2 separate regions of the Homo sapiens genome follow, and region 1 is linked to region 2. Evidence: fine-mapped expression QTL. A gene starts in region 2. The other region holds a variant in brackets. All regions are shown on one strand. Distances are from middle to middle.

Region 1 (4,391 bases), 240 kb after region 2:
CTGATGCTTTTGGCAGAAAATTGCTGGTGCTGGTGTACGATGCCAGGAGCCTTGGAGTGCAGGGCTTGGGTTTCTAAGGCAGAGCTGGAGGAGTGGAACAAAATGTTCTCTTTAACCACTGACCATGGCATACAGCATGGAGGAGAACTGTTTTTGGGCTCTTGAAGGTTCTCAGAGATTTTCATATAGCACAAAGCAGTCCAGATGACTGAGATTCTTTCTCTGAGAGAAAAGAAAACACATTCAGAACATTTGTTTGCTCTTTGCTTAATTCTACCACAGTTAACCTGGATCTTCAATCATTAAAGAGACATGATATGTCTTATTCCTTTCCCTTGGCAAAGAGTTGCTTGTCTACCCAGGCAGAGCAGAAAAAAAAGTCTTTTTCATATTATTCTACTGCTTCTTAGGATGGGGCAGGTCATTCGTTGTACTTGCGTGTAAAGTTAGGTCGCACCACAGCAAGGCTCAGGGGAGCAGATGGTGACTTTTATTCATCATTTCCCAAGATGAGGGAAAGGGACTACAATAGTTTACTCTCTCAATGCTATCTTGGTTGTTGCTATTACGACAGATGCTTCCATCAGAGGAGATACAGATATAGAAGAGAGAGGCTGAGACACCAGGAAATCAGGCTGCCTCTCCATCCTGCCCCCATTGCATTAATGTGGAAATGAGATTCAGTTTGCTTTTTGCTGGACTTCAGTCAACAGAAGAGTAATTGCCTTATCCTAAATGAAAAACATGACTTCCTGATTATAGTAAATAGGGAGACGGGGGTAACATGAGCAGGACAATCCGGTCTTTCACTGTAACTACCCAGCAAAACACTGCCTCTTGAGACAGCTGGGAGCCCAGGGGCTGGTGGAAAAGAAGCTGAGGCAGCCCGCAGGGCATTTTGAAGGTGAAAGTTGTCCCTACACACGAAGCTCCTGGTACACTGCCCATTAGGGTGGGCTGATCTGCTTCTGCCTGAATTTGAGGTAATTAAATCAAGGATTAGAATGATATTTACATTTGTTTTCTTAAATGAACCTATGTTCAATTAAGCACAATACCTACTTCACAGTATTGTGAGGAAGCAGAGAGACTGTGTGAACATGTTTCACACAAGTCCTAACACATAGCAACTGCTCAACAGATGGCAGCTATTATTTTAATCTTTAAAAATGTTTTATTCTTGTGATTGTTTTTCCTTGACTAACTGGGACCTTTGGGTCTTCTTTCTGTCCTGCCTTTGACCTTGCAGGGGTGAACTTACGTGCTCGCTGACAATGTCCTTAAAGTCCTGGCATCCTCAGAGCAAGACAAAAAGAGTGGGGGCAAGCGAAGGTAACCCCCAGTGGGGCTCTGGAAGTATGGAGGCCCCTCTCCTTTCCTCCTTCCTTCCACCTCTGGCCAGCGAGGCAGAACTCACAGGCAACACCTGGTTTCTGCACAGATGCAGCTGCATTTTGAACCTAGAGGAAAGCATGGACAGCGACTGGGGGGCTTGGTGGGGGGTGTCGCTCCCTAGAAGGGCACCTTTTCTGATATATGGGTCAGATGGGCCTTGGTGCACACAGGCAGGCTTCCCAGGATGGGGACATTGACAAGGAGGCAACAGTCCTCTCTCCTCCACTCCAGTGACTAATAAAAGCTAACATTTATGTAGCACTTACATGTCCCCGTCTCTGTATAATAAGCACTTTGAACATAGATGATCTCAACCCTCACAACCACACTAGGGGGTAGGTACTATTAAGAGCTCCATTTCCGTAATGAGAACTCTGAGACTTAAGGAGGTTAAATGACTTGTCCAACGTCATCCATAAACACTGAAGCCAGGATTTAAATCCAGGTCTATATGACAGCGAAGTCCACACTTCATCACAATGCCAGTCTCCTATTTTAAAGCTGTTCTCATGGGGCTGGCTATCCAGAAACATCCAAGGCTGCTGCAGCTGCTTACGTCACAGTCCGGGTGGAGAGCCTGTGAGGTCCTCTTGAAGGACGATCCCATTGCAGGAAAGCCACATGTGCTGTCCTACAGTTCACGGGAGGAAAATCAGAAATGATTAAAGCCTTGAGAAAAAAATTCCAATTCCAAGAAGCATCTATGCTATGAGTAATCCTATTCAGAATCGAGAAAAATAGAACAGTTACTGAAAACAGGGTAAAAAAATACTCCCTCCACAGTTGAGAACTCCCTCATAAACAGTCATATGACCAAATTCAGGAACAGGCCATGAATAGAAAAATGATGATTTGAATTTGTTTATTATCTATGTTGCACAGAGTTTTAGCCTGGCAGCTCTGAGGAGAAATAAGTTAGGAAAAATGATGTGTGGGCTGGTAGAATGTTTGAATTATCTGCATTGTTGATTTTGTCTCCTGATACATTCTTTCACAAGGTTGAATTAACTGATGTGCATTTCAAGTTCTCAGCTACCAGCAAGCAACTTAATGAATCTCAGAGAACTGCTGCTATCACAGAGGCCAGAAAGCAGGTAGTTTTACTCTTATCAAAGCATCTCAAAAAAGAACAGAATTTTAGGATTTTTAAAAATATATTTAAAAAGCACCCTACTGAATAAGCCCTACATTAGAAAGGACAATGTACCTCAAGAATGCATGCAGATATTCTAGGGGGGAATAGTGGTGATTAGAGAATTAAAGAAAAGTAGGT[G/T]GTAGTGGTGGTGGGGAATAGGTTAAAGCTAAATTATTCAAATATTTCTAAACATATCTTGACAAAGGTTTGGGTGGCCTCTATTTTCTTAACAGACTGAGAATCCTTCCGGGAGGAAGGTTTTAGGACAGCAAGCTTGCTCACAAAGCAAGGCCTTAGCCATCAAACAGAGGGAAGGTTCTTAGTGCAGCCTGGTGCAGGACGTTCGTATGTGCTTCCTGCCCCGCTCATTCCTCGGCTCCCCAAATTCCCTTCCTCCGTGAACCTGTGGCCAAATCCTATAGAAAGGAGGAGGCTATAAGTGAAACTTGGAAAATAATTTCACTCAAAGCTCTTTGATGTTCAGGGATAGATTCCACTCATTTGGCACTCTTCTGACCAGAAGCAACATGTACAAAAGTGGGAGAGAGATGTGCTTTGGCACCTCTAGAGCTCCATGTCCTAGCAGGAGACTAGTACCCAGAAGTGGTAGCATCCAGGGAATTAACAAGGGGCCCTAGTGGGAAAAGCAAGTCTGGTGCAGAAAACATGGTAACAAGTTTGGATTTTGTTTTAGGGGCAATGAAAAGTATTTTCATTAAAAGAGAGAATAATTTGATTTTCTGTTTTTGAAATATCACTTGTGGCTGGGAGCGATGACTCATGCCTATAATCCCAGCACTTTGGGAGACTGAGGTGGGTGGATCACTTGAGGTCAGGAGTTCAAGACCAATCTAGCTAACATGGTGAAACCCTGTCTGTACTAAAAATACAAAAACAAAAACAAAAAATTGCTGGGCATGGTGACATGCACCTGTAATCCCAGTTGCCCGGGAGGCTGAGGCAGGAGAATCACTTGAACCCAGGAGGTGGAAGCTGCAGTGAGCTGAGATCACAACACTGCACTGCAGCCTGGGTGACAAAGTGAGACTGTCTCAAAAAAAAAAAAAAAAGAGATAGAGAAGAAAAGAAATAAAAGATCACTCGTATGGAGAACTGATTTGGGGAGCCCAGAGAAAAAGCAGGGAAATCAGTTTGGAGATTGTTACAATAGTCAAGGCAAGAGATAATAGTGATTCATACACTAAGGCAGTGGCAGTGATGATGGAGAAAATGGATAGATTCAAGACACATTCTGGAGGTAGAGTAAGAAGCCTTGCTGATATTTTAAATGTCAGAAGTAAGGAAGAGGGAGAAAACAAGAATGACTTTCCAGTTTCTGCTTGTATATCTAGGTAGGTGAGGAAGACTTAATGAGGAATAAATTTGGAGAAAAAAAAATCAGGATGTCTGTTTTGGATATTTTGAGTTAAACATGCCTGGGAGACAAGTAGGCAATTAGATAGAGAAGATGAAGAATCAAAAGAAGATCAGTGTTGGAGCCATGAACAAAGTGTGCAATTTCCTAAGGAGAAAGTGGTAGACATAGAGAGAGAGAAAGAGGATGGCCTGAGATCACGCTTTGAGGAAACCCCTCTTTAGAGGACTGGCAGAGGAAAATGAACTTGAGAAGTAAGCTGGGGAGGAGAAATCAAAGAAGCAGAAAACAAACCCAAAAAGGTATAGTGTCACAAAAGCCCAGAGAAGAGCACCTGTCAGGAAGAAAGCATTCAATTTTGACTAAGGCTCCTGAGTGTTTGTGTGAGTCAAGGATGAAAAACAGCCCATTGTTGGGAACATGAACATCACTGGTGAATTTGGTAAAAGTGGCAGTGGAGGGGTAGCTTCACAGCCAGAGCAAGTG
Region 2 (4,391 bases):
TCCAAGTCTGGCTAGAGTTGTGGGAAACCACAGGTACTGTAAATCCTTGAAGGGGGGAAAATAGCAAGCTTCACAGGAAAAATGGGTATTTTGTGTATCATAACTACAGACTCATAAAATGCAAACTACACATGAACCATACTCATTTGGCACAGTTTTAATAATTTGGACACTTAAAATAGAACTGTTGCCTGAACACATAGTCCCCTTTTGTGGATCAAAATTACACAGCCTACCACCAAAAAGTGCTGTGTGAAATGGCGGGAATTTTTTTCCCAGCACTTTTGAATCCAATACAGAACTAGCTGCCAGGGAACTTGGTATATTAGCTCAGTTTAAAATGGCAGCTTAACAAATTCAAAACTTTCTTTTTAATTAAAAAAAAATGCCCCAACTTATGTCTTGCAATGCCTGTAAATCATGTTTGTCTGCAAGTGAGACTGAAGTTTATAATATGCCAAGGACTACGGTAGCTCTGAAAGGCTCCCTCATACCACAGGCCAGAGAACCTCTCCGCCCTCCACTGGGTTTGTTGATTTTTAGAGGGAAGGATTTTAAGCAAACATACCTTCCCACAGATGAGCCCCTGGAAAGCACTCGGGCCGTTCATTTCCAGTTTCCTGGAAACTGTTTTCTCCCGTAGCTTGACTGTGATGCTCCTACCTGGCGGCCACATATGAAGACCCAGGGTGTGTGTAATGACAGACTGCCCATTTGGTTTAAACAGAAGCAAAACAGGTCCTTAGAGGGTTAGCGCCGGGCCCCTTCATTTCCCTTTCCGGCCTTAAACCTTCTGAACCATTCCTAGCCCCAGCTGTGGTTGTCCAACAAAGTAAATTGCAGCCCATACTCCCTAGGAAGATGACCCAACGTGACTCATAGTCTTCAAGTTACAAAGAGTTGGACGGATGCTTTGTGGGGGTTGTTATTCTCTCTCGCAGGCAGACGTGGCCACCAGCCCCAACAAAGGACACGTTGCACCGCCCTGGCCCAGGCCCAGGTCCATGTGATCAGCGAGGCCAGGGTTTTTCCCAGGTCCACTTCGGACGTACCCAAGCTCCTCATCCTACTCTCACTGCCGCCCTATCCCTCCCACCCTTCCCAAGGGGTCCCCCTGGGGCCAGAAATTATTGGGGGACTCCCTGTACTTCGGGGAGACCCACCGGGCCCATATCGCATGTCCGCTCCACGATGGCCTCCCATTTTGGTCTCCCCTCTGAGTTCCAAGACTCACTGCACGCATAACCAGGTCCTTCTTCACCTGTAAATAAAAAGCATGACACCCCGGCGCAGCAAGACACACGACACACAGCTGTACAGACAGACACCCCCAACAGCCAGACTGACGCCCTGCCCGTGGGGCGCGCGGCCAGGTCCCCTCCACCAGCGCGGCGGTCCCGGCTCGGCTCCCTCGGACTCACCAGGTCCACCACCTCCCTCTGCCGGAGCTGCGCCTTTTGCTTCCCCTTGGGGATCTCAGAGGCGCTCGACGGCGCGGGCAGCTGCAGCAGCAGGAGCAGCAGGAGGCCGCGGAGCCGCTGCGGGGAGGCGGCGGGGCCCTGGGGTCGCATGGCTCCCGGCTGCCGGGCAGCGCGGAGCTGGAGGCGGAGGAGACCGAGGAGAGGAACGTGGTCAGCGTCTGGCTCCGCCGCGCTCCGAGGCCGCCGCAGGCTGCATCAATGCGCCTTTCACCCGCGCGCCTCTCTCCCTCCCTTAATTCCTCCCGCCCCCGCGACACCCGGAGCTTCCATCCCGTAATAGGCCCCGAGCCCCCACCCCGAGCCCGGCGTGGGGGCGGACCGAGAGCCGGGCCCGCCCCCTCCTACTGCAGTCGCTCGGCCTGTCAGGACCCCCGCGGGGCTGCGCAGACCCTCGTGGAGAGCCCGCCTGCAGGGTCTGGGCGGGGTGGCCCGTGGTCAGGAGCCGCAGGTCGGGGATTCCCGCAGGTAACACAGCGCCGCCTAAATGAACATTTTAGAGACACGTGGCTTAACCTGGGTACACGAGCCACCTTCAAGGGTCGTCAATCTATGGCATGGGTCGGCGAGTCTTATTTGTTTTTTGTTTGTTTGTTTGTTTTTGAGACAGAGTCTCGCTCTGTCGCCCAGGCTGGAGTGCAGTGGCGCCATCTAGGCTCACTGCAAGCTCCGCCTCCCGGGTTCACGCCATTCTCCTGCCTCAGCCTCCAGAGCAGCTGGGACTGCAGGCACCCGCCACCACGCCCGGCTAATTTTTTTTTTTTTTTTTTTTTTTTTTTTTTTGAGACGGAGTCTCGCTCTGTCGCCCAGGCTGGAGTGCAGTGGCGCGATCTCGGCTCACTGCAAGCTCCGCTTCCCGGGTTCACGCCATTCTCCTGCCTCAGCCTCCCGAGTAGCTGGGACTACAGGCGCCCGCCATCACGCCCGGCTAATTTTTTGTATTTTTAGTAGAGACGGGGTTTCACCGTGTTAGCCAGGATGGTCTCGATCTCCTGACCTCGTGATCCACCCGCCTCGGCCTCCCAAAGTGCTGGGATTACAGGCGTGAGCCACCGCGCCCGGCCCCGGCTAATTTTTTATATTTTTAGTAGAGACGGGGTTTCACCGTGTTAGCCAGGATAGTCTAGATCTCCTGACCTTGTGATCCGCCCGCCTCGGCCTCCCAAAGTGCTGGGATTACAGGCGTGAGCCACCGCGCCCTGCCTTATTTGTTTTTTGGAGGTGACATTTTTGGAGGCTGGAAGGTGGGGGTGGGGCGGAGGCAGGAAGAAACCATAGGTATCATCAGGTTTTCCAAGAGTCCCATGACCCAAATGATATATAAACGCTGTTTTCATAAGTGCTAACACTTACTAAGCTCTGGCACATTGCAAAACCTTGCACGCGTACTCTGTCCTCTCAGCAATCCTGGCGGGTTGGGAGGGGTAGATGCCTCCTGGGCTACTCTCATAAACGAATGAGGAAACTGAGGCTCAGGGAAGTTAATCAATATCCAGTGGAAATGGTAGAAGTTCACTTTTGAGTACTCTTTGCCTCTGATGGATATTATCTTTTTGTAACCCCCTCTGTCCTCCTTTGGCCTGTCCATTGTAGAAGAAAACATTCTCAGGGCCCAGGCTACCCACCACGTAGGGCCAGGTTGGAGCAGGAGATCTTTTATATATAACTGGCTGGAATCAGGCATAACAGAAGTCTTGCCACACCCATAACAACACGAGGTTGTGACGGATGGTAATACTGTGAAGTCAAATTCAGCTCAGCAGGGGTCTCCCTATAGACCCATGCAGGTTTTCCGGAGTTGGTGAGTCCAGCTGATGGATGTTAAAGAGAGGGAGCAGTCTAGCAGGGAAGCAGGTCGCGGCAGTTCTGCAAATGCCCAGTCCTGGGCTGGTAACTAACTAAAGGTAAATTTCACTTGTTTTTCTAGAAGCAGCAAAAATCCAAATGAACTGTAAAGCCAGGGCTGGTTATATAATTTGCCCCACCCAGTGCAAAATGAAAATGCAGGAGCTTTTGTTAAAAAATTATTCAGAATTGCAAAATGGTGTCAATGGAGCATTAAATCACGTGTGGGGTCCTTCTAAGTGCCTGGCCCTGTGTGACAGCACAGGTCATATGCCCATGAAACTGGCCCTGTATGGGGTTGCAATCCTAGTCTCTGATAAAACAGACTTTAAACCAACAAAGATCAGAAAAGACAAAGAAGGACATTATATAATGGTAAAGGGATCACTGCAACAAGAAGAGCTAACTATCCTAAATATATATATGCACCCAATACAGGAGCACCCAGGTTCATAAAGTAAGTTCTTAGAGACCTACGAAGAGACTTAGACTCCCACACAATAATAGCGGGAGACGTTAACACCCCACTGTCAATATTAGACAGATCAACGAGACAGAAAATTAACAAGGATATTCAGGACTTGAACTCAGCTCTGGACCGAGCAGATCTAATAGACATCTACAGAACTCTCCACCCCAAATCAACAGAATATACATTCTTTTCAGCACCACATCACACTTATTCTAAAATTGACCACATAATTGGAAGTAAAAACATTCCTCAGCAAATGCAAAAGAATGAAAATCATAACAAACAGTCTCTCAGACCACAGTACAATCAAATTAGAACTCAGGATTAAGAAACTCACTCAAAACCACATAACTACATGGAAACTGAGCCACCTGCTCCTGAATAACTACTGGGTAAATAACGAAATTAAGGCAGAAATAAATAAGTTCTTTGAAACCAATGAGAACAAATATGCAACATACCAGAATCTCTGGGACACAGCTAAAGCAGCGTTTAGAGGGAAATTTGTAGCACTAAATGCTCACAGGAGAAAATGAGAAAGATCTAAAATTGACACCCTAACATTGCAATTAAAAGAACCAGAGAAGCAAGAGCAA

Direction of the effects. Positions count from the first base shown, and alleles are read on the strand shown. Sizes are in standard deviations (SD) of each study's normalised expression.
In carriers of allele G in region 1, the expression in monocytes after LPS of the gene that starts at base 1,690 in region 2 tends to be lower than with T alone (moderate effect, 0.51 SD a copy in Fairfax 2014).

Evidence for each region. PIP is the estimated chance that this variant, and not a neighbour inherited with it, causes the effect.
Region 1: its variant is the best candidate, but not a certain one, in a credible set for the expression of CTHRC1 in monocytes after LPS (Fairfax 2014, PIP 0.59).

Annotation. Positions count from the first base shown.
Region 1 is chr8:103,130,228-103,134,618 of GRCh38, reverse strand. It overlaps LINC01181 (long intergenic non-protein coding RNA 1181), which reads right to left. Exons shown (of 6, transcript NR_145429.1): 2 at 1,262-2,026; 3 at 1-222. BAALC-AS2 (BAALC antisense RNA 2) reads left to right here. Exons shown (of 2, transcript NR_027071.1): 2 at 1,250-1,656. Among named protein-coding and RNA genes, the nearest start is that of BAALC, 8.3 kb to the left of the region's middle. The variant G/T (reference allele first, on the strand shown) is at 2,669.
Region 2 is chr8:103,368,837-103,373,227 of GRCh38, reverse strand. CTHRC1 (collagen triple helix repeat containing 1) reads right to left here and starts at 1,690. Exons shown (of 4, transcript NM_138455.4): 1 at 1,422-1,690. The coding sequence starts at 1,571. RefSeq lists enhancers at 442-1,235, 1,236-2,030 and a silencer at 1,687-1,806.